7 linked regions of the Homo sapiens genome follow. The protein of the gene in region 2 interacts with the protein of the main gene of each other region in a biochemical or structural test. Each region holds a gene or a part of one and is shown on either strand. Other genes may lie near its edges. The genes, in order: PABPC1, CHAF1A, YWHAB, SUMO3, SUMO1, ASF1A and DDX41.

Region 1 (4,012 bases), on a different chromosome or scaffold from region 2:
AAAGAGTTTTCTCCATTTGGTACAATCACTAGTGCAAAGGTAAGAAAACATATGGTTCATTTATTTGAGGTCTAGTAAAAATTCATACATGTAGATATATGTATATAAATTTTGTATTATTATAGCCACTAGAGAGGTGTTTGCTTCGTTACTTCTAAAACTTAAATTCACATTTGAACTGGTTGTCATAGCCTAATGGTTAACTTAAAAATGGCAAGCACTGAACTCTTTGCTAAGGAAGGCTGATATCCTCACATGATATGCACTATTCCAACAACTAGTCATTTTGCTAAAGCAAGCAATTTATTAGGGACTTATAATTGTTACTATAGTTCTGATCTGTTTATTCATTTCTACAATTCATTCTGGGTAGTCAAGCCCCAGTTCCCTCCCCTGCCCCCTAGCAGTAAGAATAGAGATCATATTTTCTTTTATTTGAAATCAGAGATTAAGAAACAAAGCAGTAGTATTCTAGTACAAATTCTGAAATCTTGATTTAAGAAGTTCTCTTCTAGATGTTTTTGTCTAGCATCCGTGGGCCAAGAGTCCCCCTATATGCAAGGTTTTGTGCATACATAATTTTGCTGGGGTTGGGGAAGAGTGCATAGAAAAAAATTACAACTCAACTGAACTGGAATGACGCTGTGGCTGATCTTTCTAGTCAGCTTTTCCTGGCAAGTCCGAGGAAGCTTCTGTGAGAGTGAGGAAATGTTAGGGGAAAGGTGGTTGAATACAAGTAAGATGGAAGTGCCATGGTTGTCTTGTGTTTCAGATTATGCTTTTTATGTAAGAGTATTGGAGTACGATAGAATTTATTCCTGAATGTTTTTGTCTTCAGTGTGTTCCCTGGATATTGTTTAAATTGAGTGTTGTGCATCAGCATATTTTGAATGTATGAAGCATGCATGTTTTTCTGTTTCTTGAGACAGGATCTCATTATGTTGCCCAGGTTGGAGTGCAGGGGCATGCCACAATCACAGCTCACTGCAGCCTCAGCCTTTCCTGGGCTTAAGCCAAGCTTGTCCAACCCGCTGCTTGCAGGCCACATGCGGCCCAAGAATGCTTTTAATGCAGTGCAACACAAATTCTTAAACTTATGAGGTGTTTTTTTTTTGTCTTTTTTAAAGACGAGTCTCACTCTCGCCTGGGCTGGAGTGCGGTGGTGCAATCTCAGCTCACTGCAGCCTCCGCCTCCCGGGTTCAAGCGATTCTCCTGCCTCAGCCTCCTGGGTAGCTGGGATTACAGGCATGTGCCACTACGCCCAGCTAATTTTTGGTATTTTTAGTAGAGATGGGGTTTCACCATGTTGGCCAAGCTGGTCTTCCAACTCCTGACCTCAGGTGACCTCCTAAAGTGTTGGGATTACAGGCGTGAGCCACCGTGCCTGGCTGGTTGTCTGTCTTTTTATTGATTAAGGGAACATTTGTTTTATTTTTTTGAGATGGAGTGAAGTGGTGTGATCTCAGTTCACTGCAACTTCCACCCCCTGGGTTCAAGCAGTTTTCCTGTCTCAGCTTCCCGAGTAGCTGGGATTATATGCACCTGCCACCATGCCCGGCTAATTTTTGTATTTTTAGTAAAGACGGGGTTTCGCCACGTTGGCCAGGCTGGTCTCGAACTCCTGACTTCAGGTGATCCACCCGCCTTGGCCTCCCAAAGTGCTAGGATTACAGGCGTGAGCCACCGCGCCCGGCCAAACATTTGTTTTATATTGGAAATATTTTCTTCGAATTTTCCACTTTATAGACCTCACTTTGTGTGTGTGTCATCTTAGAAAGGTTTTCTCTCTATTTCTACATTCTATGTTCAGATTCAGAATCTACCTGGCATTTAAGATTTTTCAATGTAATGTGAATTAAGAGTTCTACATTTTTTCATTTGTCCCAGTGTGTCATGTATTGAGTAGCCCAAAGTCCTTTTTCCCCAGTACTTTAAAATGTTAACTTTAGCACAGTGAATTCCCATAATTGCTTGGGTATATTTCTGGCCTCTGTTTTATTACCGTTTGTTCCTATGCCACTCGCATACTGTTAATGTAGTTTTATAGCATGCTTATATATATTGCTGGCCTAGCGAGTGGTTCTTTGCAAGTCTTCATTGCTCATTTAAAAGGTCTTTGCAATCAATTTTAGAAGAACCTTCCTCTTGAGTGTTCTTTATACCGTAATATTTATGGATCCTCTGCTCTTGAATGTAAAAACTTTTATTTTAAGATGTGGGTATTGTAAGATTCAACTACTTTTTTCTCAAAGGCATAGTGAAGCATCTTGTCAGCTTGAATTGTTAGAATAGTCAAAATTTAATTGGGAAATGCTTCCAGTGGTGCCCAAAAGTCAATTTAGTAGGCCTGGGATGTATTTATTTAGATAATTAAATTTCAATATTGAAAATCCAATCAAATTCAGTATCTAAAATCTTTAAAAGTTTCTGTGCAGCCTTCACTTCTGTCAGTTCTCTGACCTGGCTAGGGTAATGCATATGTGTAGTTTGCCCTTAATAATTGGGTATTAAGGAAAAATTGTGAACTCAATGGGTAAATACAAGATGATTAAGCATTAACAGGGTTTAGTTATTTGATTCAGTGATTTATAATTGTCTAAATTGTAACGCTCTTTTTTTGCTCCTCATTCTACCATTACGTTAACTTTTTTTTTCTTTTTTTTAATAGGTTATGATGGAGGGTGGTCGCAGCAAAGGGTTTGGTTTTGTATGTTTCTCCTCCCCAGAAGAAGCCACTAAAGCAGTTACAGAAATGAACGGTAGAATTGTGGCCACAAAGCCATTGTATGTAGCTTTAGCTCAGCGCAAAGAAGAGCGCCAGGCTCACCTCACTAACCAGTATATGCAGAGAATGGCAAGTGTACGAGCTGTTCCCAACCCTGTAATCAACCCCTACCAGCCAGCACCTCCTTCAGGTTACTTCATGGCAGCTATCCCACAGGTAGGTTTTAGAAGGCAACCAGAACCATGAAGGTTTTCGTATTTGGTCATTTCTAGTGTTTTTTGTGCCCCTCGCCCCGCAAATGTGAAACATTAAGAAAGGGGAATTATGATTGAGTAGGAAAAAATGCTTGAGTGTGAAGTCCTGGTAAATGTTTTGAAAAAGTACATATAATTTATTGCATTATTTGCTTTTTTCTTCAACTGATAAACTCATGTGCTTTTTTTCCCTGCAGACTCAGAACCGTGCTGCATACTATCCTCCTAGCCAAATTGCTCAACTAAGACCAAGTCCTCGCTGGACTGCTCAGGGTGCCAGACCTCATCGTAAGTCTTTTTTCTTTTAATTAAGGTTGGGGATTGAGTTAAAAATAACACATTGGGTAAATCAGCTCTTCTATGTCAATGTTAGGTTAACTATTGCATTTCACATAATTTGTGGTTATGGATGTTCATTTTTATAGCATTTAAAAGCAGTGCTAAGATAGTAATGTCTACAGTGGTTTGATTTCCCTTTATAAAAGTTTTGGGAATAGGTACAGCTCTTCATTTTTTATTTATTTATTTATTTATTTATTTTCGAGACAGAGTCTCGCTCTGTTGCCCCAGGCTCGAGTGCAGTGGCTCAGTTTCGGCTCACTGCAACCTCCACCTCCCAGGTTCAAGCGATTTCTCCCTGCCTCAGCCTCTGGAGTAGCTGGGATTACAGGTGCCCGCCACCACGCCCAGCTAACTTACGCATTATTAGTAGAGATGGGGTTTGACCACGTTGGCCAGGGTTGTCTTGAGCTCCTGATCTCAGGTCATCTGCCCACCTCAGCCTCCTAAAGTGTTGAGAGTACAGGCGTGAGCCATGGCACCCAGCCAATTTCATATTTTGTCAGGCCACAGTTTTAAAGGTCTCGTTCCATTTAATCATGTATGAGAATCAGAGTCGTGGTATTTTATGTCTTGTCCTGTGGAACAGTATGTTATATTCCAAGAGCACTTAGAGTTTATTTTTTTAGACAGAGTCTCACTCTTTCTTCTAGTCTGGAGTGCAGTGGCATGGTCTTGGCTTACTGCAGCTTT
Region 2 (4,012 bases):
CTGGGTTCACACCATTCTCCTGCCTCAGCCTCCCGAGTAGCTGGGACTACAAGCGCCCGCCACCATGCCCCGCTAATTTTTTGTATTTTTAGTAGAGACGGGGTTTGCACCGTGTTGGCCAGGATGGTCTCGATCTCCTGACCTTGTGATCCGCCCGCCTCGGCCTCCCAAAGGGCTGGGATTACAGGTGTGAGCCACCGTGCCCGGCCTTTGTTGTTTTTTGTTTGTTTGTTTTGAGACAAAGTTTCGCTCATTGCCCAGGCTGGAGTGCAGTGGCATGATCTCAGCTCACCACAACCTCTGCCTCCTGCGTTCAAATGATTCTCTTGCCTCAGCCTCCCGAGTAGCTGAGATTACAGGCATGTGCTGCCACGCCCAGCTAATTTTGTATTTTTAGTAGAGACGGGGTTTTTCCATGTTGGTCAGGCTTGTCTTGAACTACTGACCTCAGGTGATCCGCCTACCTCGGCCTCCCAAAGTGCTGGGATTACAGGTGTGAGCCACCACGCCCAGCTACAGTGTCTTTCATTATACTGAAATTTCTCCTTTTGGCCAGGTGCGGTGGCTTATGCCTGTAATCTCAGCATTTGGGGAGGCCAAGGCGGGTGAATCATCTGAGGTCAGGAGCTTGAGACCAGCCTGGCCAACAAGGTGTCTCTACTAAAAATACTAAAAATACAAAAATTAGCCGGGCGTGGTGGTAGGCGTCTGTAATCCCAGCTGCTCATGAGGCTGAGGCAGGAGAATCGCCCAACCCAGGAGGCAGAGGTTGCAGTGAGCCGAGATTGCACCACTGTACTCCAGGCTGCGCAATGAAGCGAGACTCCATCTCAGAAAAAAAAAAGAGGAGTTGTGATCTTTCAAAAAAAGACCCTGTCTTTTTTTTTTTTTTTTTTTTTTTTTTTTTTTGAGAAGGAGTCTTGCTCTGTTGCCCAGGCTAGAGTACAGTGGCGTGATCTGGGCTCACTGCAACCTCTGCCTCCCAGATCCAAACGATTCTCCTGCCTCAGCCTCCTGAGTAGCTGGGACTACAGGTGCCCACCACCATGCCAAGCTAATTTTTGTTTTGTTTTGTTTTGTTTTGTTTTTGAGATGGAGTCTTGCTCTATCCCCCAGGTTGGAGTGGTGCAGTGGCACGATCTCGGCTCACTGCAACCTCTGCCTCCCAGGTTCAAGCAATTCTCCTGCCTCAGGCCCAGGCTAGAGTACAGTGGCGTGATCTGGGCTCACTGCAACCTCTGCCTCCCAGATCCAAACGATTCTCCCGCCTCAGCCTCCTGAGTAGCTGGGACTACAGGTGCCCACCACCATGCCAAGCTAATTTTTGTTTTGTTTTGTTTTGTTTTTGAGATGGAGTCTTGCTCTATCCCCCAGGCTGGAGTGCAGTGGCACGATCTCAGCTCACTGCAACCTCTGCCTCCCAGGTTCAAGCAATTCTCCTGCCTCAGGCTCCCAAGTAGCTGGGACTACAGGTGCATGCCACCGTGCCCGGCTAATTTTTTGTATTTTAGTAGAGACCGGGTTTCACTGTGTTGCCCAGGCTGGTCTCGAACTCCTGAGCTCAGACAATCCACCCGCCTCGGCCTCCCAAAGCGCTACAATTACAGGCGTGAGCCACCGCGCCTGGCCTAATTTTTGTATTTTTAGTAGAGACGGGGTTTCACCATCTTGGCCAGGCTGGTCTCGAACTCCTGACCTCAGGTGATCCGCCCTCCTCAGCCTCCCAAAGTGGTGGGATTACAGGCATGAGCCACTGCCCCTGGCCTAATTTTTGTTTTTAGTAGAGATGGGGTTTCACCATGTTGGGCAGGCTGGTCTCGAACTCCTGACCTCAGGTGATCCGCCTTCCTCCGCCTCCCAAAATGGTGGGATTACAGGCATGAGCCACTGCCCCTGGCCTAATTTTTGTTTTTAGTAGAGATGGGGTTTCACCATGTTGGGCAGGCTGGTCTCGAACTCCTGACCTCAGGTGATCCGCCCTCCTCAGCCTCCCAAAGTGGTGGGATTACAGGCATGAGCCACTGCCCCCGGCCTTTTTTTTTTTTTTTTTTAAGTGAGGTTTGTTGAGATATAATTTACATCCAATAAAATAAACTCTTTTCAGGACATTTGTGTTGACAAATGACAGGGCCAGCTAACCATAATGAAGATAAACCCTATTTCCATCACTCAAAACAGCTCCCTTGTAGTCTGTCCCCCCACCGCCGGCCCTTGAGACTGCCAATCTGCCCTCTGCCCTGTAGCTCTGGAAACTCGGCTCTGTGGACCCACACAGTGCCTGGGCTTTTGAGTCTGTGCCTTGGCCTTAGCCTGGATGAATCCCACCAGCACCCTGCTGTGTGCGTCCATGGTGCCTCCTTTCTCCCATTGCTCGAAGACCCCATCGGGTCTCTTCTTGATTTCAGACCCTGGCCGGCTCCTGTGGGAAGTTTGCCCCCTTTGAAATTAAAGAGCACATGGTCCTGGCCCCTCGGCGTCGGACCGCTTTCCATCCAGACCTCTGCAGTCAGCTGGACCAGCTCCTCCAGCAGCAGAGCGGCGAGTTCTCCTTCTTGAAAGACCTCAAAGGCCGGCAGCCCCTGAGGTCCGGACCCACGCACGTTTCCACCCGGAATGCAGATATTTTTAACAGGTCAGAGCCTGAGGAGGTCGGCCTTCACCCACTAGTGATGCTGGAGGCCAGCATCCTGAACCCTGGGGTCCCCGGGGTGGGAGCTCTGGGTCCTTCTGTTGCTTGCTTCCTAGTGCCCTCGGGCCCTGGGCTTCGGTGCTGGCTCAGGCCTCTCTCCACCTGGCCTTCCTGTAAGCTCCTGAAGTCTTCCTCTCCCTGTCTTCCCAGCTCCTCGTGGAGGAATCTTATTTCCCTGCTGGTCTCCAGTGAAGGATACCCCCCAACACCTCGCTCTTGCAAATCTCATTCCACAGAACCTCCCTTGCTAAAAATGCTCTGGGGCTGCACCTGGGCAGCTGTCCTCCCTCTCACCCTGCAGGCTGCACCCTCCTCCATCTGTCCCTTCAGTCCATGTTCCTGACCTTTCTTTGGGGACAGGCAGTGCTGCTTTTTAACAAATGCCCATCTTTCTAGAATTGTTAGGCCAGCTTCACAGGGAGGTTCCTGGGAGGTTTGTGAGCAGGTCTGTAAGGCAGCGTGATCCTGAGCCTGGGGTTTTCCTTCTCAGTGATGTCGTCATCGTGGAGCGTGGGAAGGGCGACGGTGTTCCCGAGAGGAGGAAGTTTGGCAGGATGAAGCTCCTGCAGTTCTGTGAGAACCACCGGCCTGCCTACTGGGGTACCTGGAATAAGAAGACGGCACTCATCCGCGCGCGAGACCCCTGGGCCCAGGACACGGTGAGCTAGCCCCAGAGTGCCTCCGTCCCCGTACCTCCTCACTGTGCCCCTTTCCTCCAGCCCCAAAGACAGTTGTGAGTCCCATGTGTTTCTTTTCTCAGAAGCTCCTGGACTATGAGGTGGACAGTGATGAGGAGTGGGAAGAAGAGGAGCCTGGGGAGTCCCTGTCCCACAGTGAGGGGGTAAGGATGTGCCCCAGCTGTCTTCACTCACAGACGGCTTGTGTTTGAGTCTCTGTCCCACAGTGAGGGGCTAAGGATGCAGCCCAGCTGTGTTCACTCACTGACAGCTGGTGTTTGACCTGCTGTGTGGTCTGAAACCTGAACGCACCTCAACATCCAGACTTCCAGCTTCTCTCGAAAAATCTCATCTGGTGACACTCGCCCACGTGGCTGCTGGGGATGGGATCCCGTCCGCATCTGCACCGTGGCCCCACAGCCCCCTCTTGCCTCCTGCGGGCCTGCTGCACACCATTTCCTCCTGACTGCCCAGCTGCTGTGACCTAGTGGGCTTTCTGCCGATGCTCACCGTGTCTGTCGGGAGGCCATGCAAAGCAGATGTTCACAGCTTTACATTTTTTTGTTTCTTTAAGATGGAGTCTCACTCTATCACTCAGGCTGGAGTGCAGTGGCGCGATTTCGGCTCACTGCAACCTCTGCCTCCC
Region 3 (4,012 bases), on a different chromosome or scaffold from region 2:
CATCAATTAAAAAAAAAAACAGCACACGTTTAAGGGTTACAATGCCTCTCCTTAGAAAGCCAACCAGACAGAACTAGAGGAAATAGGTTTAAAGGTAGCTAGGTCGTGACTTAAAAAGAGATGTTATTAATAAAGTGCATGTATGTTTTTCTAGATGAGATAAAAATCAAAGGCCAAAGCAGATAAAGAAATGAGAATAAGGAAGAAAACTGACAAGAAAATCTGAAAAATCTAGGCTCGAATGTTTCAATGGGGTAAGGAACTGATCACATATTCTGAACAGCATTCACAGATGTACCATTCCAGATAGAGCATCCACAGCACTGTACAGCAGAAGTTTTAGTTCTGGAGTCTCTCTGCTGAAGAAAAATCAGATGCCAAGCTACTGCAGAAGGGACTGAGAAAGTCAGTGGGACCAGGTGGTTAGTGGGTGTTACCCAGAAAAAGTTAAACACTCCTGGCTCTCAGAGAAAACTACTCACTAAAAAACACCCACTATAAAACTGTCTGTGTGCCATTCTACATATAAAATTTAGAGTCCTGTAATAAATTTAATTCCATTCAAACATTTGCAGGTTCTTTGTTAGGAAACAAAACACAGCATATCTGTAATACAAAGTCATTAGCACTAAGTCCAGTGAACACTGAATTTGGAGAGAAACTGCATTTCTATTATTTCAAAATCCCTTCCCTCTTTCACATCAGCTGTTGCATATCATTGCTAATTATGTCCAATTAGCCATGATTAAACTTACTGAGGGTGTTAAGTGACAGGCGCAAGGTTACACATGTGACTTAATGGTAGATATGACAATAAATTGACTTCTTGGCTTAAGTAATCAATCCAAAAGACACTATGTTAATTCTGATCCATAAAGACAGCCCAATTGGTTGACCTTATGAATAATTTCTACAGTTTGGGGCCCACTGACATAATGAAGCCTATCAGTCTGATTTACCAGTACCGCACACCAAGTCCACAGGCTATGTGACCTCTGTGAATTTGTTTTCTCATCCATAATACAGGCAAATCTGGGCTGGGCGTGGTGGCTCACGCCTGTAATCCCAGCACTCTGGGAGGCCGAGGAGGGTGATCACTTGAGGTCAGGAGTTCAAGACCAGCCTGGCCAACATGGTGAAACCCCGTCTCTACTAAATATATAAAAAAATTAGCCGGGTATAGTGGCAGGCGCCTGTAATCCCAGCTAATTGGGAGGCTGAGGCAGCCTGAAGGCAGAGGCTGCAGTGAGCTGAGATCACGCCACTGCACTCCAGCCTAGGCGACAGAGCAAGACTCTGTGAAGAAAAAAAAAAACATAGGCAAATCTACTTACTAGGGTTCCTGTAAGGAGTAAACCTGTTTATGATATAAAACAGTAAGCACTCAAATAAATGGCAACCACAGTACATTCCACACAAAACTTAAAAAACCAATGGTCAGCCAGTGAAGGGAAACTTACTATGTACCTCATTTATTTTACACGTACTCTGCTTTCTTTAAAGACTTTTAAAAGAAAGGCACATAACAATTTCCCTATGCTTATTTCTAAAATGGCCCTTATCACAGTTTACTGCAATGCAAGTGTCTCTGCTGGCTCCCACACCGGATTGTGAGCTTAAAGTAGGAATCCAGCCAGGCGTGGTGGCTCACGCCTGTAATCCCAGCACTTTGGGAGGCCGAGGCAGGTGGATCGCAAGGTCAGGAGTTCAAGACCAGCCTGGCCAAGATGGCGAAACCCTGTCTCTACTAAAAATACAAAAATTAGCTGGGCGCAGTGGCAGGCGCCTGTAATCCCAGCTACTCAGGAGGCTGAGGCAGGAGAATTGCTTGAACCCGGGCTTCAGAGGTTGCAGTGAGCCAAGATCGTGCCACTGCACTCCAGCCTGGGTGACAGAGTGAGACTCCATCTCACAAAAAAAAAAAAAAAAAAAAAAAAAAGTAGGAATCCAGACTTGTATCTTTGGACACCCAATGTGGAGTACAAGGCCTAGCACACTGAGTGACTGCTTGATCAACTGATGCATTCTTAAAAAGTGAAAAAGCAATTATTTCCTACGTGGACAGAGGAAGGTAGCACACATCTGACCTATAAAATACAGACTGTTTTTATTGTCTTAGACTACTTTTTGAAAAAAGCCAGCCAGCTCTCATCAGGAGCAACACTATACATTTTGACTAATATTTTTCAGCTACCAATCATTGTATTTATAGATTCAAACTGACTTTCAACAAGCCTTTGGATTACTTTCTGTCCATCTCCTCCATTCAGAAGTCCAATCAGTTCGCTATACAAAAAGTTCACTATACAGAAACCCAAACCAGCTAACTCGTTTAGTAAATAACAAAAATATCCATCCATCATTTATGGCCTGCAAAGCACTCAGGGATTCCTAGAAACGCATTTGATCCTAAGTATCCTATGAGGCAGGTGACATTGTCCCGTTTTATAAATGCAAAGAGTTAACTCATTCAGGGTCACACAGCTATATATGGCAGATCTGGGATCTAAACCAACATTAATTTTAAAATTAATGCTCTTTCCTTTATGTAACCCTATCTCCTAAAGATCAATTATGAACTCCAATGCTCACTTAAGGAAAAGAGAGAATTGTCAACTTTTAAAAGAACTATACAAGGTTGTTACAGTGAAATTTTAAAACTGGCCTATTAAGCTAATGTTATCTAGCTTTAAAAATAAAAACAAAATCAAGGAGTTAAAAACAGCATAAAAACATGCCAAAGACTTACCAAAATGTCAAACAAATTTTAAAGGAAAGCTCTTAGCTGAGGGCAAATAATAATAATAGACAGGACTCATATCTACTTTATTGTAGCCTTCAATCTTCTTGTCCTGGTCAAGGCCATTCAGAAATAACCTCCTGTTGGTTCTTTTAGGGAAAACAATAAAATAAACTAACCAGTACGGGAAAAACTTACATAATAAAGAACTGGCCAGAATTTAAAAAAAAAAAAAAAGTTAACTAACCTACAATCTGCTAGGAATGACTTGAGGCCACTGATCATTTACATCTCATTACAAGTATCAGATACATATAACCACACCTCTATTAGAAAATCTTTTAGTTGAGAAAGCAGTAAGATGATTGGCCTTCAGCACACATATCATGAGACAGAAAGCACTTTTAGTCTGTTTCCTCAAGTATTCCCCTTAGAAAAATTCCCTCAGAATCCAGCTCCAACCGTTAGTTTCTCCATCATGCAATACAGATGACTGCTAAGATCATATTCACATAGAGATCAAAAGGATTCTAAAGCTTAAAGGTTGCTATTATGTAACCATAATTTCTTGCCCCTTAACTAGTGAATTGTCATCTTTCCCTAGAAAAATGTAGAAACAAGGAACTTAAAAGTATCTCTACAAGGAAATTTTAGTTCATTCTCTAAGGTACCAGCATTTAAAGGAAAACTCAGTTTGTTGACACCGAAAGAGCAGGTAGCACAACAGGATGTTTTAATTTAGAAGTTTCTCTCTATTTACGTAGATATATTTCCTCATTTCCTCCCTGCCAACAAAATGAGAAAAATCTGAACATCTACTGATGAAGTCGTAAGATAAACAAAAATTAATGGTCACAATCAAATTCTATTAGATGAAGAACCTAAAATTCTATGCCAAAGTAACTGATGACTTTCTCCCTAGTATGAAGCAAGTACTAGAAAAACTGGATTGTTCACAAGCTTGCTTCCTGATGCATGCTAGCAATTATCATCCCTACAGGCCAGAATGGGTATATGCTCCACAATAAATTGTCCTGTATCTATCTTCAAAAATAGCTAATATTCCCATTCAAACGTTTACTTTATTAGGATTGGTGTAAAGAAAAATTAAGGACTAAATGGTGTTCACATAAAACATATACATGTGCTGTCTCTACCACATGCAGAAATCTATAATATCATTCCTCAGAACCAGATCACCTGGTTTCATTCCTGGTTCTGGCACTTACCTTGCGCTGTGTGTGAGACCTCGGGAAAATTATCCTTCTCAGT
Region 4 (4,012 bases), on a different chromosome or scaffold from region 2:
GGAAATATGCCTTATGTTAGTTCTCTGATAATTTGTATCCTTCTCCAGACTCTGTTCCCTCTTTTTGGAGTTCCTGTTCCTCCTGCTGCTCATTGTCCTAGATATTTTAAATTTGATAATTTTTCTCCCATTTTGCTTTGGGCTTTATTGTTGCATTTGGGCTTCTTTCCGGGAGGTCATTTCAACTTTATCTTTCCACTTCCTGTGGACATTCTCATCTCTGTCATGATTTTTAATTTCCAAAAGTTCTTTTTTCTTTCTGTTCTTTGAGTGTTCTTTTTTTCTCAGTAGCAACTTATTTTTTTTGAGACAGGGTCTCACTCTGTCCCCCAAGCTGGAGCGCAGTGGTGTGATCATGGTTCACTGCAGCCTTGAGCCCTGGGGCTCAAGTGATCCTCCCACCTCAGCCTCCCGAGTAGGTGGGACTCCAGGTACACGCCACCACGCCTGGCTCATTTTTTTATTTTGTGGAGATGGGGTCTCCTTATGTGGTCCAGGCTGGTCTGGAATTCCTGGGCTTAAGTGATCCTTCTGCCTCGGTCTCCCAAAGTGCTGGGATTACAGGTGTGAGCCACCGCACCCATCCTCAGTAGCAATTGATTGTTTTCTGAAGGTAGTAGTATTTTTTACTTCCCATAGAATTTGAATCGTGAGTGTAGGTGTGTGTGGTGTGTATGTCCGTGTCTTTGTGCATGTGTGTGTATGTGTGGGTGTGTGCCTGTGTGTGTATGTGTGGGTGTGTGCCTGTGTGTATATGTGGGTGTGTGCATGTGTGTGTATGTGGGTGTGTGCATGTGTGCATTCGTGTGTGTGTATGTGTGGGTGTGTGCGTGTGTGTATGTGGGTGTGTGCGTGTGTGCATATGTGGGTGTGTGCATGTGTGGGTGTGTGCATGGGTGTGTGCATGGGTGTGCATGTGTGGGTGTGTGCATGTGTGTGGGTGTGGGCATGTGTGGGTGTGGGCATGTGTGTGCCTGTGTTGGGAGTGTTCTCCTGCCTCCTTCCTGTCCGTTCTCCTCTGCGCTCCTCCCCTCCTCTCTAGGCTGCTGCACAGTGAGCCTTTCCCTGACTGCTCTCACGCAGGCTGACTTCTGTGCAAGCATGGAGCACCGAGAAGCTGCTGAAAAGCTGTGTACATGGATGGCTGTGCTGCCAGGGCTGTGCATCCACATGGGGTGATCTGTCTGGATTGCAGGTTCTGGAGGCGCCCAGATGCTACAGTTTGAGAGTTGAGTCCTCCAGGCTCCGGCCAGCCTCCTGGAGGCGCATCTGGAGGGGAGAGGGGACTTGGCGCACAGTGTTGAGGGCACGCGCTTTCGTGGGCCTGTTTCCGCCCTGCGCCTGGAGCTCCGCACCCACCTTCTCAGAAAGCACATCTCATGTGTGCTGCCGTGGGAGGCACAGGGTTGTGGGGGTCCTGCCTGAGGGGTCTGCATGTGAACTTCCAGGCAGCTGTTCAGAATCAGCTGCCTGCCACAGCTCTGCCTCACAGGTTGGGGCGTGCCCAGTCCCTCCGCCCTAGGATCCTGGTCCAGTGTCCATCAGACCACCAGTGTCCACGCCTCAGTAGCCTCTGGCTCAGCCCAGCATTGACATATCTGCCCATCCCCACTCCCGTTTTCTTTGTCCTTCCTGTTTGTGCCTTTTTCATTTACTTCATTTCAGTGGGGTTTCAGGAGGGAGCAGAGATGCACGTTTTAACCCCGTCTGTCCTGTTTCAGTTAAATCAAAACTGCTCGTTGAGGAAATGTTTCTGCCCCTGACCACATTTCTCCATTCCCTCAGGACGCAGAAAGGCTGCGTGCTCTCCTTCCTGCTGCCCTCCTCAAGGCCAAAGTCATGGTGGTAACTGCTCCCCGGCCTCATGCAGCCTTCTTATCTGTCCCTCATTGGCACACAACCTGTTCCTTGCTGAGAACTTTGTAAAGGGGGGAAGTAGTGGTGCCAGCATTGTAGAAGTTCTACTCGGCTTCTGGAAAGATGGGAGGGATGACCCAGGACAGGTCAGGGCACCAGGACAGAGAAGATTCAGTGTTTGAATTGACCATTCCACACGGCCACTGCACTGAGAAACTTTGATTGAAAAGCTAGCCACTGGAAGGTTAGTATTCACCTGGCGGCTCATTTCCCCTCCCCTGGCACATCACCAATGCTAGTCCAGCTTTTCTCCTGCTCCTCAGAGACCTCCTGGCTGACAGCTGTCTGAGCTAGCGTCACTGTGACGTGTTACGCTTCCTCACCTGGGTTTCGTATGTAAAGAAAGGGTGGATTTTAGAGGTACATGAGTTTGGATGTTAGTCTAGGACGTCTCTTGTGTTCTGGTGTTTGAATGTAAGTCGGCTTTCCTTCTGCCATGGACCACTTACCTATCTGCTTTGAAACTGAACTGCCACTGGTTTGGCTTTAAGAAGTTCCCAGTATGCAATGGTGTAACAAAACCTGGGTTGAAAATGAGCCGTTTTAGCTCATCAGAGAGAAGATGGTAGAAGAGTGGGTTCTGAAAGCAGTGGTGTCAGGCACCGCGTGAAAGAGATTGTAGGCCCACTGGTGAGTTTTTAATACTGAGCTGGATCATAAATCTGCATATCAGAATGCTGATACTTGGATTAAAATATTTGGTTTTTGAATTAAGCCGTATCTGGAAATGTTTAATGGCCACTGCTTTTCCTCTCCAGGGCTTGTCAGTGAGACTAATGGCCACTGCTTTTCCTTTCCAGGGCTTGCCAGTGAGACTAATGGCCACTGCTTTTCCTTTCCAGGGCTTGTCAATGAGGCAGATCAGATTCAGGTTCGACGGGCAGCCAATCAATGAAACTGACACTCCAGCACAGGTACGGAGCTGGCTTCGCGTGGTTCCAGGGCGACTTCCGATTTGTGCGGGGTAACTGCCATTTGGGATACGCTTATTTGAGAATTGTAGGTGGGAGCTCATACAGAATGCCTTAATGATATTGATTATTAGATTATTTATTTTTCACATTTTAAATTTAAATTTTCAAATGAGAAAACTGCTTTGCAGACATCATTCTTGCTGTTTGGAGATGGAGCCAAGTGCTGGGCCCGTCCTCACTGTAAGGGAAGCGGGGGTGCAAGGACCACTCAGCGGCCCCTTCCCACTCATTGTCTGGACGCTTGCTGTTGTAGCCCGTGTGCAGCTTAGGGGCCAGCTGGATTCTTGTGCCCTTTAAGCATCTTGCACAAGTGACGTGGGTGGGCAGAATGTGCCATAACCCCTGATTATCAGTCTGCACAGCTCGTTTCTCTCAGGCACATGCAGACATGAATGAGATTTCATCTATCACGTTGCAGGGCATCATACTGTCATGGAAAGAGCTTTGGACCTGGAAACAGACTTTTTTTTTTGAGACGGAGTCTCGCTTTGTTGCCCAGGCTAGAATGCAGTGGCGCAGTCTCAGCTCACTGTGCAAGCTCTGCCTCCTGAGTTCACGCCATTCTCCTGCCTCAGCCTCCCAAGTAGCTGGGACTATAGGTGCCCACCACCACTCCCGGCTAATTTTTTTGTATTTTTAGTAGAGACGGGGTTTCACCATGTTAGCCAGGATGGTCTCGATCTCCTGACCTTGTGATCTGCCCACCTCAGCCCCCCAAAGTGCTGGGATTAAAGGCATGAGCCAACGCGCCCGGCCGAAACAGAGTTTTTTTTTAAACTTGGTTCAAGTTGCAGCTCTTGTCATTTGTCAGCTGATGGCCCCGTGACCAAGCATCACTTCATCTTGTGGAGTCTCAGTTTTGTCTGTCCATAAATGGAACCAATACCTGCTTTTTCTCCCTTTCAATGTTGTGAGAATCCACTGGAATGTTTTATGTGGAAATATTTTTGCAAAACATTTAAGATTTTAAATATTTACTATTCAGTATTTAATAAATATTGAAAACATCTTTGCAACAAGTATCCATTTGTACCTACTTGAGGAAACCTACACACCGCTGAGGCAGTGGCAGCTCTGGGAGTGTTCACCAGGGAGAAGCTGCTGAGAGCAGCTGAGCAGGG
Region 5 (4,012 bases), on a different chromosome or scaffold from region 2:
ATGAAAAACAGGCAAGGATTCATACTAATGAAATCAGTTCTGTTATCTAAGCATTTCCCTAGACTCTAGCCTGTATTTTAAAGTTAAAAGCTGCTTCTAGTTTAATATGTTCTTTTAATTGTTGAATGTTAAAGAATTTTGTATTTTAAGTTACTGGCATGAGATACACAGGTAATGGTTATGGTTATTCTTATCAAATACGGATTAACTGCTTGAAATTATTACGGATAATAAGGTATATATCTAAATAAGTGGGTAATTTGGTGGCCAAACTAAGGTGTAGCACATAGAGAAAAAAAGCTACTTTTTTACCACATTATTCATGAAATTTTCCAAGGTACCCCCTTTACTAAAAATGATTTGCTTATTCTTGAGATACTTCATGGTGAAGTTGTTTTAACTAATTTATTCTGTTAACCTCATTTTCATTTCAGTATCTCTTTATTGGAAATTGTTTTGTAACTGTTTTTGTGATCTTTTTTTTTTTTTTTTTGAAGAGATGAGGTCTTGCTATGTTGTCCAGGCTGGCCTCCAACTCCTGGGCTCTCAAGCAGTCCTAGTGCCACAGCCTCTCAAGTATCTTGTCCTCCTATTTTTGTCTCCTCTTTTAAACTTAAGCATTATGCTTCGGATAGTCTAAAATAATTGATTATATAAAACTGATTCGTTTTGACTCCAGAGTACATTAGGCTAATACTTTCTTATTTGATTTTCCTTTCTAAATAGCCTTGCTTGGCTGGGCACTGTGGCTCACGCCTGTAATCCCAGCACTTTGGGAGGCCGAGGTGGGCAGATCACCTGAGGTCGGGAGTTTGAGACCAGCCTGACCAACATGGAGAAACCCTGTCTCTACTAAAAATACAAAATTAGCCGGGTATGGTGGTGCATGCCTGTAGTCCCAGCTACTCGGGAGTCTGAGGCAGGAGAATTGCTTGAACCTGGGAGGCAGAGGTTGCGGTGAGCTGAGATCGAGCCATTGCACTCCAGCCTGGGCAACAAGAGCGAAACTGTCTCAAAAAAATAATAAATAATAGCCTTGCTTATGCTAATATGATTAATTTACATTTCTTAGTACAGTTTTGTAGTTAAAGTAAACTCCTCATGATAGGCTGTGAGAAGATAATCTTGGATTCAGAAGTTTGTCTAAAAATTCATGGAGGATGAACTTCCTTTGTGCTGGTAAGAGCTGGCTGTAGGGCAGTTGTTTCCAAGTTGTTCCTCTGGCCAGTAGTATCGGTACCACCTGGTAATTTGTTAGAAAGAGATTCTTATCCCTACTACAAATGTGCTGAATAAGAAACTGGGTCTTGGGCCCAGCAGTTTGTTTAACACGTCCTTCAGCTGATTTTGATGCGTGGTAAAGTTTTAGACCATTACTATGGGGTATTATAATAAAAGAGACCCCTTTCTTGATTTCTAGTGAATGGCGTTTGGGACAGTAATTGACTTAGGATTTTTTTTTCTTAATTGACTGGCATGGAAAAGAAATGCTGTTTGTATTCTCAGGTGCAGATTTTGCATCCTGAATGAAAGTAATGGATACTCATAAGTGAGTAATTAAAATAGCATGTAGGAACTTTTATCTTGAAATTTAATTTTCTTTCAGGAGGCAAAACCTTCAACTGAGGACTTGGGGGATAAGAAGGAAGGTGAATATATTAAACTCAAAGTCATTGGACAGGTGAGTTTCATTGTTTTTCTCTTTTGAGTCCCCTTCAATGTGAATACTTTTTCACAGGAAAAAAAATTATTTAAGGCAAATTATTTTAAAATGACTATGTATGCATTTTAATTTACTGTGTATGCATCTGTTAGAGGTAGAAGAGGCCGATACTGTTTTTTAAATTACTCTGCCAGGCAGTTTTAGATCATCTTAATTTTTCCAAATAGGAATGTTTTCTTGGTTAGTGTGCTTCAGGGGCAAATACAGTGAATACTATTAAGTGTTAAGGCTAGGGCCAACCTTAAGTAAAAGGTTTATCAGCCCTTTTCCTGACCCTTTTCTGGCCCCCTATTTCCCTAGACTCTAGTCTGTATCTTTTTTTTTTTTGAGATGGAGTCTTGTTCTGTCACCCAGGCTGGAGTGCAGTGGTGCGATCTCGGCTCACTGCAAGCTCCGCCTGCCGGGTTCACGCCATTCTCCTGCCTCAGCCTCCCAAGTAGCTGGGACTACAGGCGCCCGCCACCATGCCCGGCTAATTTTTTTTGTATTTTTAGTAGAGACGGGGTTTCACTGTGTTAGCCAGGGTGGTCTTGATCTCCTGGCCTCGTGATCCGCCAGCCTCGGCCTCCCAAAGTGCTGGGATTACAGGCGTGAGCCACCGCGCCTGGCTCTAGTCTGTATCTTATTGATTCTGAAATGTTAATTAAGGTTAGCTAACAACCGTTGGAGGAATGAATCTACATAGTTACGTGGGTTTTCTAAAGGACAAAAGACAGAGAATTGGTGGAAGGGTGGACTCGCCCAGGATGGAGTGCAGTGGTATTTCTATTGAAGTGTGACAGTACCATTTCCCTATATTCTCCCAAACATGGGATATTAACAGTCTTTAAATTTTGTTCAAATATGCTAGGTAAAACATTTTTGTTTATTTTTCATTTACCTGATTATTAATAAGGTATAATTTTTTTGGTCTGTTACATTTATATTCTTCTGTTAATTGTGTTCATACCCTTTTCCCATTTTTCTGTGATTATCTTATTTTGAAGACTTTTATTTTTTATTTTCAAAATTTTTTAAATTTAAATTTTATTTTGAAATGGAGTTGTGCTCTTGTTGGCAGGCTGGAGTGCAATGGCGTGATCTTGGCTCACTGCACCCTTCACTCCTGGGTTCAGGTGATTCTCCTGCCTCAGCCTCCCGAGTAGCTGGGACTACAGGTGCCTGCCACGAAGCCTGACTAATTTTTTTAAAAAATATTTTTAGTAGAGACGGGGTTTCCCCATGTTGGCCAGGCTGGTCTCGAACTCCTGACCTCAGGTGATCCCCACCCGTCTCGGCCTCCCAGAGTTCTGGGATTACAGGTGTGAGCCACCATGCCGGCTTTATTTTGAAAACTTTTAAAAGATAAAATTCACATACTATAAAATTCACTATTTTAAAGTATATAATTCAGGGGCTTTAGTATTATTCACAAGTGTGTGCAGCCATCACCACTACTAATTCCAGAACATTTGCATTACCCCAAAAAGACACCCTGTACCCATTAGCAGTCATTCCCCATCCTATTTCCTCCAGCCAGTGACAACCATGATTCTACTTTCTGTCTCTATAGGTTTGCCTTTTGTGGACATTACATATAAATGGAATCATAAGATATATGGCTTTTTTTTTTTTTTTTTTTTTTTGAGGCAAGGGTCTCGCTGTGTCACCCAGGCTGGAGTGCAGTGGCCTGATCTCAACTCACTGCGACCTCAACCTCCTGGGTTCAAGCGACCCTCCTGCCATAGCCTCCTGAGTAGCTGGGATTTCAGGTGTGCACCACCATGCCCAGCTAATTTTTGTATTTTTAGTAGAGATGGGGTTTCGCCATGTTGGCCAGGCTGGTCTCAAACTCCTGACCTCAGATGATCCGCCTACCTCGGCCTCCCACAGTGTTGGGATTACAGGCATGAGCCACCATGCCTAGCTTTGATATGTGACTTTTTATTCTGGTTTGTTTCTTCTTTTCTGCCTTGCTTCCCTGTTCCTCTTCCCCTCCCTCCCCTCCCCCCCTCCCCATCCCCGTCTCCCTCTCCAGGGTTCTCGCTATGTTGCTCAGGCTGGTCTTGAACTCTTGGGCTTAAGTGATTCTCCCTCTTTGGCCTAAAGTTCTGGGATTATAGGTGTGAGCCACTATGCCTGGCCTGGCTTCTTTGTTTTAGCATGTTTTCAAGGTTCATTCATGCTGTAGCATGTATCAGTACTATATTCCTTTTAATGGCTGAATTCTGTTCCATTATATGGGTAGAATATATTTTGTTTTCCATTTATCAGTTGATATTTAGTTTGTCCCCATATTTTGGCTACTAT
Region 6 (4,012 bases), on a different chromosome or scaffold from region 2:
AGTTGATGAGCTGAAGCCACTTACTTCTGAGCCATGAGGGAGGTTTTACTAATAATTTTTCTACTTTGGAGCTCTGTGATTATTTGGATCTCTGCAGCGTAGTATAGGGCTGCCCTTCCAAAGTGTGTTGAGAAGGGCCTTAAAAGATGATATACAAAAAAAGGGGGATTCCATAGCCAAATAAATTTGGGAAGTGCTGGATTAATGTTACTGGTGTTCTTTACTGAAGGATATCTCAGAAAACTTACTGTGCCAGCATGCTTTATGAATCCTCAAGACAAGGTTTACAGCATTTCCCAAGTGTTTGGCTATGTTATCTTGTTTGTGAGGCACTGTCCAGGAACTAGTGTTTCACAAAAGAGTATTTTGAGAAACTCTGATCAAAGTGTGAACTCTGGTAGGAACTTTATAAGGAGCATTTCACTGCCTTTCTGGATTGCTATGAGAAGCCAATTTTAAAGCCAGTAAGTGGCTAAGTGGACATTAAAAGGGTCTTTGATGTCATCTGGTAATGTAATTACTGAATATGAAATAATGCTTTGGTTTTTTAACCCTAGACTTGGAATGGAAAATTATCTATGTGGGCTCTGCAGAAAGTGAAGAATACGATCAAGTTTTAGACTCTGTTTTAGTGGGTCCTGTTCCCGCAGGAAGGCATATGTTTGTATTTCAGGTAAGATTAATCTTGGTAAATGTGTATGCCAAATATGTTTCGAAGTAGACTATATTATCTATTATCTTATAACCCTTATCCCTTTCCTTTTGGGTTAAAGAACTGCTTCTGCTGCATTCACTTTAAATCTGTTTCCATCATGTTTTAGGCAGTCTCTGTGTCACAGAGGAACTCTTACTTCCTGGTTTTATATGCTGAGAGATGTTAATGTGACGTTTACTTTAGAGAGATGAACAACCTACAGTAAATTTTATACTGTATCATGGCACACAGGGTGGTGAATTTGGGGCTCTTCCTGTGAATAGCACCTCAGTATCAGACTTCCAAGGTGGCTGTCTAGCAACCCAAAACATGGATTCAAAATATCTAAAACTAACTGGCATTGTTAGTAATATGCATCTTCAGTTTATGGTTTCAGCCACTGGAACTGATGGTGATGTAACAAAAACAACTTTATTTCAGCATAATCAGTAGTTGAGCTAGGTTAACAGATACGTTTAGTGGATAGAGATGTGTGGTCTTGGGTCATTGGAATGACATTCCAGAGTTTACTAAAGCATCTTATAATCTACATTATCTTATAAGAGGACTACTTTTGCAAATTTACTACCCCACTAGGTATTTGTGAAGAGAATTTCTAGTAATAAAAATTTTGTTCTTAGATACCACTGAGAGTATTTGGATCTATACCAAGGCTTCAGACATTGTCTTCTATATTCAAAAGTGTTATTTCTTTTAATCCATGTTAAATTGCTATATGGAACCATTCAGTTATTCCTCAATTATGCATGCTTATTTATAAGGGAGATGTTTGTAATAGACCAAAGAGTAACTAGCCATAGGTTTTTTAAAACTACTATTAATTTCTGTTACAAGTATTTCAACCCAGCAATGTCCCATCAGTTAAGTGGAACTCACTGAAAAGACTTAATCCAGAAAGAAAATCTAACTCTTCCTATGCCTGACCTCTGTTTTCTCACTTCACAGATGGGACCAATTTAAATGAATACCATTGGTCAAATAATCCCATCAGAAACTGGCAAAGAATCACTTAGACACATGCCATCTCTAGAGCTGCTACCTTTCCCTCCCCTGTCCTAAATACAGAATTTAGAATCTTGGTTTCCTAGCCTTAGTACTTTTGATTAAAAAGCAACAAATAATTTACTGTATCTAAAGAAATAGCTAAGAAAAGCTCAAATATACTAATCAAATATATGAATTAAAAGTGCTGTTAATCAAAGTTGTGTGAGTGCATAACCATGTAAAAGACATGGGTAACAGAATGCCCTGTTCTGTAGAAGGAAGCACTGCAGTTATAGATATAGGTCAAATCCCGACACCTCTGTATTAGCCATGTGTGGCTTTACCTCTCTAACCTCCTCCCTTAGTCATTCCAGTCTTCTATAAAATGTGGATAATATTCTATCTCATTAAAATGTTATGGGGAATAAAACAGTATAATCAGTCACTCATAAAGAGTGCCCTATTCCTAAAATTAGAACTACATTTTTATTCTCTTAACTTCTTGAAATTGTTATATAAAAAAGCAGGACTTGCTCTGACCCACAGGCCTAAGGAACCCATACTTTACTGATAATTCATGATACAGTAAAAGAAACCTGGGTTGACAGGTACTGATAATACTTTTTTTTTTTTTTTTTTGGCTACTATAAGAACTTACAAATAAATGCCTTGTTATTGAAACAAACCCTTGAAAATCTTTTGTGTTTGTTATTAAGCATACTCCTAAGCTTTTGGCTGAAAGTGCTGTAGCAAAAAAAATGTATTCAAAAGTATTTCCTGCTGGTGATCTTCACGTAGTTTTACCTTGGTGTCAGTGTACATGTTGCCAAAAAGAACAGAGGAGGTACAATGTATATTCAGCCTAAAGGTTTTACAGAATTCACCATTATCAACAGAAAGAGACTAAATTACAGCTTTTGTTTTGTATTTTAAAACTACTATAGTAATCTCTTGGTCTGCCATGATTTTGCCTCTCTAAATAGTTAAACATGTCTTTCTTCTGAGTGAGTCAAAGGCTAGCAGGAAGATGTCCAGACATCTGCCTAGTATTGCCAGCTAGAGTCAAAACAAAGATCTCTGCTCATTACTTCTGCATCCTAAATTATTTGAAAGGCCTGTAAGCTTCTCTACTTAAATTTGCTCAAACTGAATCTTTTTCAAATTGTAAAATGCTTTTTAAAAGATGTTTTATATTTACAACAGATTTTAAAACAGAAACATGCCTAGAACCAATTTACTGAAGGGAACCAATTTACTGAAGGGAAGGGGAAGAGTTCTCATAGCAGTACTGAACTATTATATATTTCCCATCTCCACCCACTTCAGGTATATTAGAATCCGTTTGGGTACACTGAAAGTAATCTAACCCCTCTGTGCAGGGGTGTGTAGAATCTCTAAGACAAACAGCATATTCTCCAGGACAAGGCTGGCTGTCCCCTATCCTGGTGTCTTGCCAAGAGATCATAAACCCCTTCAGGGCAGGAACTGATTTACAAATGAATTCCAAAATACTAAGTGCTCAGAGCTGAGCCACACGAGATTATAAAGATGAACTGGATGGGACTCCTGCCCTGGATAAAGCATAGCATCTAGAAGAGAAGACTGAAAAATAAACATGTTTAGATCACAGGGCATACGTTCTTAGATAATTTGTGACAAGAAATATCAGCACATAAAAAAGGAATCTATTGATTCTACCTTCTGAGTTAGAAAGGGCGTCACTGAGAATACACTCGATGTAAGCTCCAAAAAAGATTAAAAGATGAATTTTTCAGGATGTGAGCGAAGGACCTTTCAGGCCAAGGGAACAGTATGTTAGAAGCACAGGGGGTGAAGTATTTCTTTTTTAAATTTGTTTTTGTAGAGATGGGGTTTCGCCATGTGGCCCAGGATAATCTCAAATTCCTGGGCTCAAGTGATCCACCCACCTTAGCCTCCCAAAGTGCTAGGATTACAGGCGTGAGCCACCGTGCTCAGAGCGTGAAAAGATTATCACCACGTTTTAAAGAACCTGTGTGATTCATATCTCTAGAACAATGGTGGAGTTAAAGGAGGTATGAATGGAGATATTGGCTGGAGACAAACTGAGAAGGGCCTTGTCAATGAAGTTAAAGAACTGAGATTTTATCCCTTAGAAAAGGGAATACTCTTCTGAGGGTTTTAATAATCTGAGGTTTTAAAACCAAAGAGAAAGAACATATCTGTGTTAATGCTGGTAGCAGTGCAAATGATAGGCTAGAGCTGGGGAGATCAGTTAGAAAATTCTAAGCAATATTCCAGATAGGAGATGACATGAATTCAGCCTCCAGAAAT
Region 7 (4,606 bases), on a different chromosome or scaffold from region 2:
CTCTTTAAGACCAGTTATCTGTCTATATTTCTAGTCTCAATCTACATAAGCTCCTCGCACACCAGGTATGTGTCTTGATTATCATCTGCTTGAGCGCAGTGCCAGCGCCCAGCACACACTCTTGAAGGCAAGAAAGCACAGAGCTGACCAAGTCATTCCTTAGAAGTCTCTAATAAAGTTGAAACCACTTACTCTGACAGTCACAGCAGGCATGCTCTGGTCGCAATCTCCTTTTCTGGCCTTAGGTCTGGCTTCCCCATCCCACCCTTGCCGCAATGCTGTTGCCTAGTGAATCTGTGTACTTGCACATCGCCAGACCTGTATTCCTGCAGCGCCCTGGCCCAGGACGCCTCTCCTCTCCCGGCCTGAGATTGCCATGTATTTGGGTGTTGTGAGCAGGACCAGAAACCATGTCCTCCTCCATCCCTCCCAGGTTGAGACCCACCATGGGACTGGCAGTAAGCACCAGCTTATTTTTTTTATAGAGATGGGGTCTTGCTATGTTGTCCAAGCTGGTCTTGAACTCCTGGCTTCAAGCGATCCTCCTGCCTTGGCCTCCCAGAGAGCTGGGATTACAGGAATGAGCCACTGTGCCCAGCCTAAGCTTTCTTTACTAAAGAAGACTTCATGAATTCCTGTGTATCCTTCACATCCCAGCTAAGAGGCCATTGTACTGTGAAAACTATGACACTTCGAAAAGCGGTACCTTGTCTTAGGATCTTTCTCTTTAAGACCAGTTATCTGTCTATATTTCTAGTCTCAATCTACATAAGCTCCTCGCACACCAGGTATGTGTCTTGATTATCATCTGCTTGAGCGCAGTGCCAGCGCCCAGCACACACTCTTGAAGGCAAGAAAGCACAGAGCTGACCAAGTCATTCCTTAGAAGTCTCTAATAAAGTTGAAACCACTTACTCTGACAGTCACAGCAGGCATGCTCTGGTCGCAATCTCCTTTTCTGGCCTTAGGTCTGGCTTCCCCATCCCACCCTTGCCGCAATGCTGTTGCCTGGTGAATCTGTGTACTTGCACATCGCCAGACCTGTATTCCTGCAGCGCCCTGGCCCAGGACGCCTCTCCTCTCCCGGCCTGAGATTGCCACGCTTCCCTGGAAGCGCCCCCCAGGCAGCTCTGTTAGAGCATTTACAGTAATAACCGTTTACATTTATACAGGGCCTCCCACTTCAAAACCACTGCCATCCGTATCTGATGCGTGCCCCACCAGTGAACGTATGTGTCACACAGGCGCAGTCAGGGAGGCAGGGTGTGTCGAGCGGTTTATCCCGCAACCCCGGCGTCCCCGGCAGGGATGAAAGCGCAGGGCCCACGCGAACTCGGCCCGCAGCTCCCGGCCCTAGAGGACGCACTGTCCGCCGGCAGGGGCGTGCCCAAGACGCCATGCTCTGGGAGAGGTTGGGCACCTGGCAGGCCGCCCCGACTCCGGATCAGCTGTCTCCGCTGCGTACGTCTTCCTCTTCCAATGGGCTTGGATTGAGCCTTCTAGCGCATATTCCAAGTCCTCCAATGTCCCACAATGCCTTGCAGCCGGTTTCGCCCTCGGTCCTGGCAACTGTCGCGTAACCACCCATGAAAGCGTCCATGCCTCGCCGTGCGATAGTATCTCCGGAACAAATTTGTCCCTCTGCGCGATCCGGAACTCCGAGGTCGTTCCTACGCGCCGTCGTTCGCCTCTTCACATCGGATTGGGTCTCACGCAAGGATGAGGCGGGGTTTCGCCGTGGCGCGCATGCGTGCAGCAAAGAATGGAGGAGTCGGAACCCGAACGGAAGGTAGGAGAGAGGCGAGACCCCGCGCGTGTGGGAGCGGGCGTGAAGAGGGGAGCAGGCCGTGCCTGACTGGCGTGTGCTTGCAGCGGGCTCGCACCGACGAGGTGCCTGCCGGAGGAAGCCGCTCCGAGGCGGAAGATGAGGACGACGAGGACTACGTGCCCTATGTGCCGTTACGGCAGCGCCGGCAGCTACTGGTGAGGGGCACGCGTCCGGGGAGGGATGGGGCCGTGACCGCGGGGTCGCAGGGGGCGGGCGTGGCCTCGGCCTCCGTGGGGAGGAGGGCAGTCTGAGGAGTGAGCTTCAGTACACCAGGGCGCGGCCCCCAGACAAACGAGGGACCGACGGCTTGATCTGAGGGGTAGGGCAGCTTTGCGCCTCGGGCACAGGATCCTCGCCCCAAAGCCAGGATCCTGACGCTGACCTTGTGGACTCCATGCCCATCCTATCTGTGGATCCCGGGTGGAACCTCAGCTCCAGAAGCTGCTGCAGCGAAGACGCAAGGGAGCTGCGGAGGAAGAGCAGCAGGACAGCGGTAGTGAACCCCGGGGAGATGAGGACGACATCCCGCTAGGCCCTCAGTCCAACGTCAGCCTCCTGGATCAGCACCAGCACCTTAAAGAGAAGGCTGAAGGTGGGCTGGGCAGCACTGCCTGGGCGAGAAAGAAGAAGCTGAGCCTGGTACACCGTTTTGGTATCTGTCTGACATCTTCCACTTCTTTTCTCAGCGCGCAAAGAGTCTGCCAAGGAGAAGCAGCTGAAGGAAGAAGAGAAGATCCTGGAGAGTGTTGCCGAGGGCCGAGGTATGGTTGTAGCCAGGATAGTGAGAAGGTGGACTGAGTCTTCTCCTCCCAGCCCCAGGCATGTTATATCTCAAGGGATCTGGCTTCTCAGAAGCAGGAGCCAGCCCTGAGCCATGTCTCTCTCTTCAGCATTGATGTCAGTGAAGGAGATGGCTAAGGGCATTACGTATGATGACCCCATCAAAACCAGGTATGTCTGTACAGTCTGCAGTTGCCCTTGCTTAGGATGGTACATGCAGGGATGCTCCCAGGCCAGCTATTCCCAGGGCTCTCTTGATCCCTGTTACCCATCCACAGCTGGACTCCACCCCGTTATGTTCTGAGCATGTCTGAAGAGCGACATGAGCGCGTGCGGAAGAAATACCACATCCTGGTGGAGGGAGACGGTATCCCACCACCCATCAAGAGCTTCAAGGAAATGAAGTTTCCTGCAGGTAGTCAGGGGCTGGAGAGAGATACCACACTTTTATAATCAAATGCCTGTGAGGTTATGTCCTGGCTCCCACTGAGCTCAGCCACATCTGCATTGGATCCAGTCACTGGGGCTGGAGGGATTTGAGGAGGAGTTTCTTTAGGTTCCTTGTTGCCTCAGCTGTACGTGTTCATTGTTCTCTGCTGTTACAAAGCTTCAGGAGGAAAGTGCCATTGGGCATAGACACTGGGTACAAATCCTGGCTGCACCTAGCCTGTGGGCCTTGGACAAGTCTCTTTTTTTCTTTTTTTTTTTCCACTCTCTCTCTCTCTCTCTGAGCCTCAGTTTCATCATCTGCAACTTGTAGGGGTAGTGCCAGTTTTACAGGCTTTGGGGCTCTGAGAAAGTACCTGTGAGTCATGAAGACGATGTCGGTTGGTTTTCATAGCCATCCTGAGAGGCCTGAAGAAGAAAGGCATTCACCACCCAACACCCATTCAGATCCAGGGCATCCCCACCATGTGAGTGTGGACTGTGGACCTGGGGTCCTTGAGGAGGGCTGGAACAGGGAGGAGCAATGGCTAGGTGTCCTTCATCTTCTGTTGAAATTGGCCCTCGGGTCATCCTCTCCCAACAGTCTATCTGGCCGTGACATGATAGGCATCGCTTTCACGGGTTCAGGCAAGACACTGGTGTTCACGTTGCCCGTCATCATGTTCTGCCTGGAACAAGAGAAGAGGTTACCCTTCTCAAAGCGCGAGGGGCCCTATGGACTCATCATCTGCCCCTCGGTAAGATAGGCTGGCCTGGAGGGCAGGCCAGAGATTGGGGCTGCCATCTGGTGCCAGCCTTTGTCCCTCTGCCTGCAGCGGGAGCTGGCCCGGCAGACCCATGGCATCCTGGAGTACTACTGCCGCCTGCTGCAGGAGGACAGCTCACCACTCCTGCGCTGCGCCCTCTGCATTGGGGGCATGTCCGTGAAAGAGCAGATGGAGACCATCCGACAGTGAGTGCTGGCGCTCCCTGCCCCCCACCTCTGCCACCTGCGAGTCTGTGGAAAAGCTAAAGGACCCTTTACCTTAGCCACTCCACAGATCTTCACAGAGGGCTGCTGTGAGTGCGACCCTCAAGGAGCTCCCAGTCTAATGGGGAGGTTAGTTGGGGGAGGACAGAGGGATGTGGCCAGGTACTGTGGGAGCACGGCAGATGGAATGGCCCACCTTGCTGGGGACATCTGGGAGGTGGGAGCTCAGAGAAGGCTTTTCCGGGAAGGTGACATTTGAATTGGGAAGAGGGGCAGTCCAGGCTGAAAGCACAGAGGCGGACGGCCCAGGAAGGTCAGGGTCATTCAGTGGTCAGTCAAGGAGGTTGAGGCACTGGGGTAGGGCTGGATCCCAGCGGCACCTGTGTCCTTTCAGTGCTGTGCAGTCCTCTGCAGACCACCAGAGGCCCTGGACCAGGCCCTCTGTTCACAGATGGGCCAGACCCCATCCCGGAGGCCTTCCTCCACGGACTTCTGAGTATTAGGGAGATGGTGAGCACAGAAAAGGTGAAGCCAGTGGGCCAGGAAAGCGAGCCCAGAGTAAAGCCTCTGGAGCTTGATGA

What was found.
Region 1: the proteins of CHAF1A (region 2) and PABPC1 form a complex in vitro, tested with the Homo sapiens proteins (one study listed by BioGRID).
Region 3: the proteins of CHAF1A (region 2) and YWHAB form a complex in vitro, tested with the Homo sapiens proteins (one study listed by BioGRID).
Region 4: the proteins of CHAF1A (region 2) and SUMO3 form a complex in vitro, tested with the Homo sapiens proteins (one study listed by BioGRID).
Region 5: the proteins of CHAF1A (region 2) and SUMO1 form a complex in vitro, tested with the Homo sapiens proteins (one study listed by BioGRID).
Region 6: the proteins of CHAF1A (region 2) and ASF1A form a complex in vitro, tested with the Homo sapiens proteins (one study listed by BioGRID).
Region 7: the proteins of CHAF1A (region 2) and DDX41 form a complex in vitro, tested with the Homo sapiens proteins (one study listed by BioGRID).

What each region holds. Positions count from the first base shown.
Region 1 is NC_000008.11:100,708,389-100,712,400, reverse strand, and holds part of PABPC1 (polyadenylate-binding protein 1), read left to right. Parts: coding exon 1-39; intron 40-2,669; coding exon 2,670-2,942; intron 2,943-3,177; coding exon 3,178-3,268; intron 3,269-4,012. UniProt on the Homo sapiens protein: Binds the poly(A) tail of mRNA, including that of its own transcript, and regulates processes of mRNA metabolism such as pre-mRNA splicing and mRNA stability.
Region 2 is NC_000019.10:4,426,259-4,430,270, forward strand, and holds part of CHAF1A (chromatin assembly factor 1 subunit A), read left to right. Parts: intron 1-2,405; coding exon 2,406-2,632; intron 2,633-3,179; coding exon 3,180-3,348; intron 3,349-3,449; coding exon 3,450-3,530; intron 3,531-4,012. UniProt on the Homo sapiens protein: Acts as a component of the histone chaperone complex chromatin assembly factor 1 (CAF-1), which assembles histone octamers onto DNA during replication and repair.
Region 3 is NC_000020.11:44,888,428-44,892,439, reverse strand, and holds part of YWHAB (14-3-3 protein beta/alpha), read right to left. Parts: intron 1-4,012. UniProt on the Homo sapiens protein: Adapter protein implicated in the regulation of a large spectrum of both general and specialized signaling pathways. Binds to a large number of partners, usually by recognition of a phosphoserine or phosphothreonine motif.
Region 4 is NC_000021.9:44,807,866-44,811,877, reverse strand, and holds part of SUMO3 (small ubiquitin-related modifier 3 isoform 1 precursor), read left to right. Parts: intron 1-2,759; coding exon 2,760-2,831; intron 2,832-4,012. UniProt on the Homo sapiens protein: Ubiquitin-like protein which can be covalently attached to target lysines either as a monomer or as a lysine-linked polymer. Does not seem to be involved in protein degradation and may function as an antagonist of ubiquitin in the degradation process.
Region 5 is NC_000002.12:202,217,701-202,221,712, reverse strand, and holds part of SUMO1 (small ubiquitin-related modifier 1 isoform a precursor), read left to right. Parts: intron 1-1,606; coding exon 1,607-1,681; intron 1,682-4,012. UniProt on the Homo sapiens protein: Ubiquitin-like protein that can be covalently attached to proteins as a monomer or a lysine-linked polymer.
Region 6 is NC_000006.12:118,900,209-118,904,220, forward strand, and holds part of ASF1A (histone chaperone ASF1A), read left to right. Parts: intron 1-557; coding exon 558-673; intron 674-4,012. UniProt on the Homo sapiens protein: Histone chaperone that facilitates histone deposition and histone exchange and removal during nucleosome assembly and disassembly.
Region 7 is NC_000005.10:177,514,102-177,518,707, reverse strand, and holds the start of DDX41 (probable ATP-dependent RNA helicase DDX41), read left to right. Parts: upstream 1-1,746; 5' UTR 1,747-1,762; coding exon 1,763-1,789; intron 1,790-1,872; coding exon 1,873-1,983; exon of another isoform or gene 1,984-2,260; coding exon 2,261-2,420; intron 2,421-2,514; coding exon 2,515-2,589; intron 2,590-2,718; coding exon 2,719-2,779; intron 2,780-2,886; coding exon 2,887-3,023; intron 3,024-3,449; coding exon 3,450-3,522; intron 3,523-3,638; coding exon 3,639-3,792; intron 3,793-3,870; coding exon 3,871-4,007; intron 4,008-4,606. UniProt on the Homo sapiens protein: Multifunctional protein that participates in many aspects of cellular RNA metabolism. Plays pivotal roles in innate immune sensing and hematopoietic homeostasis.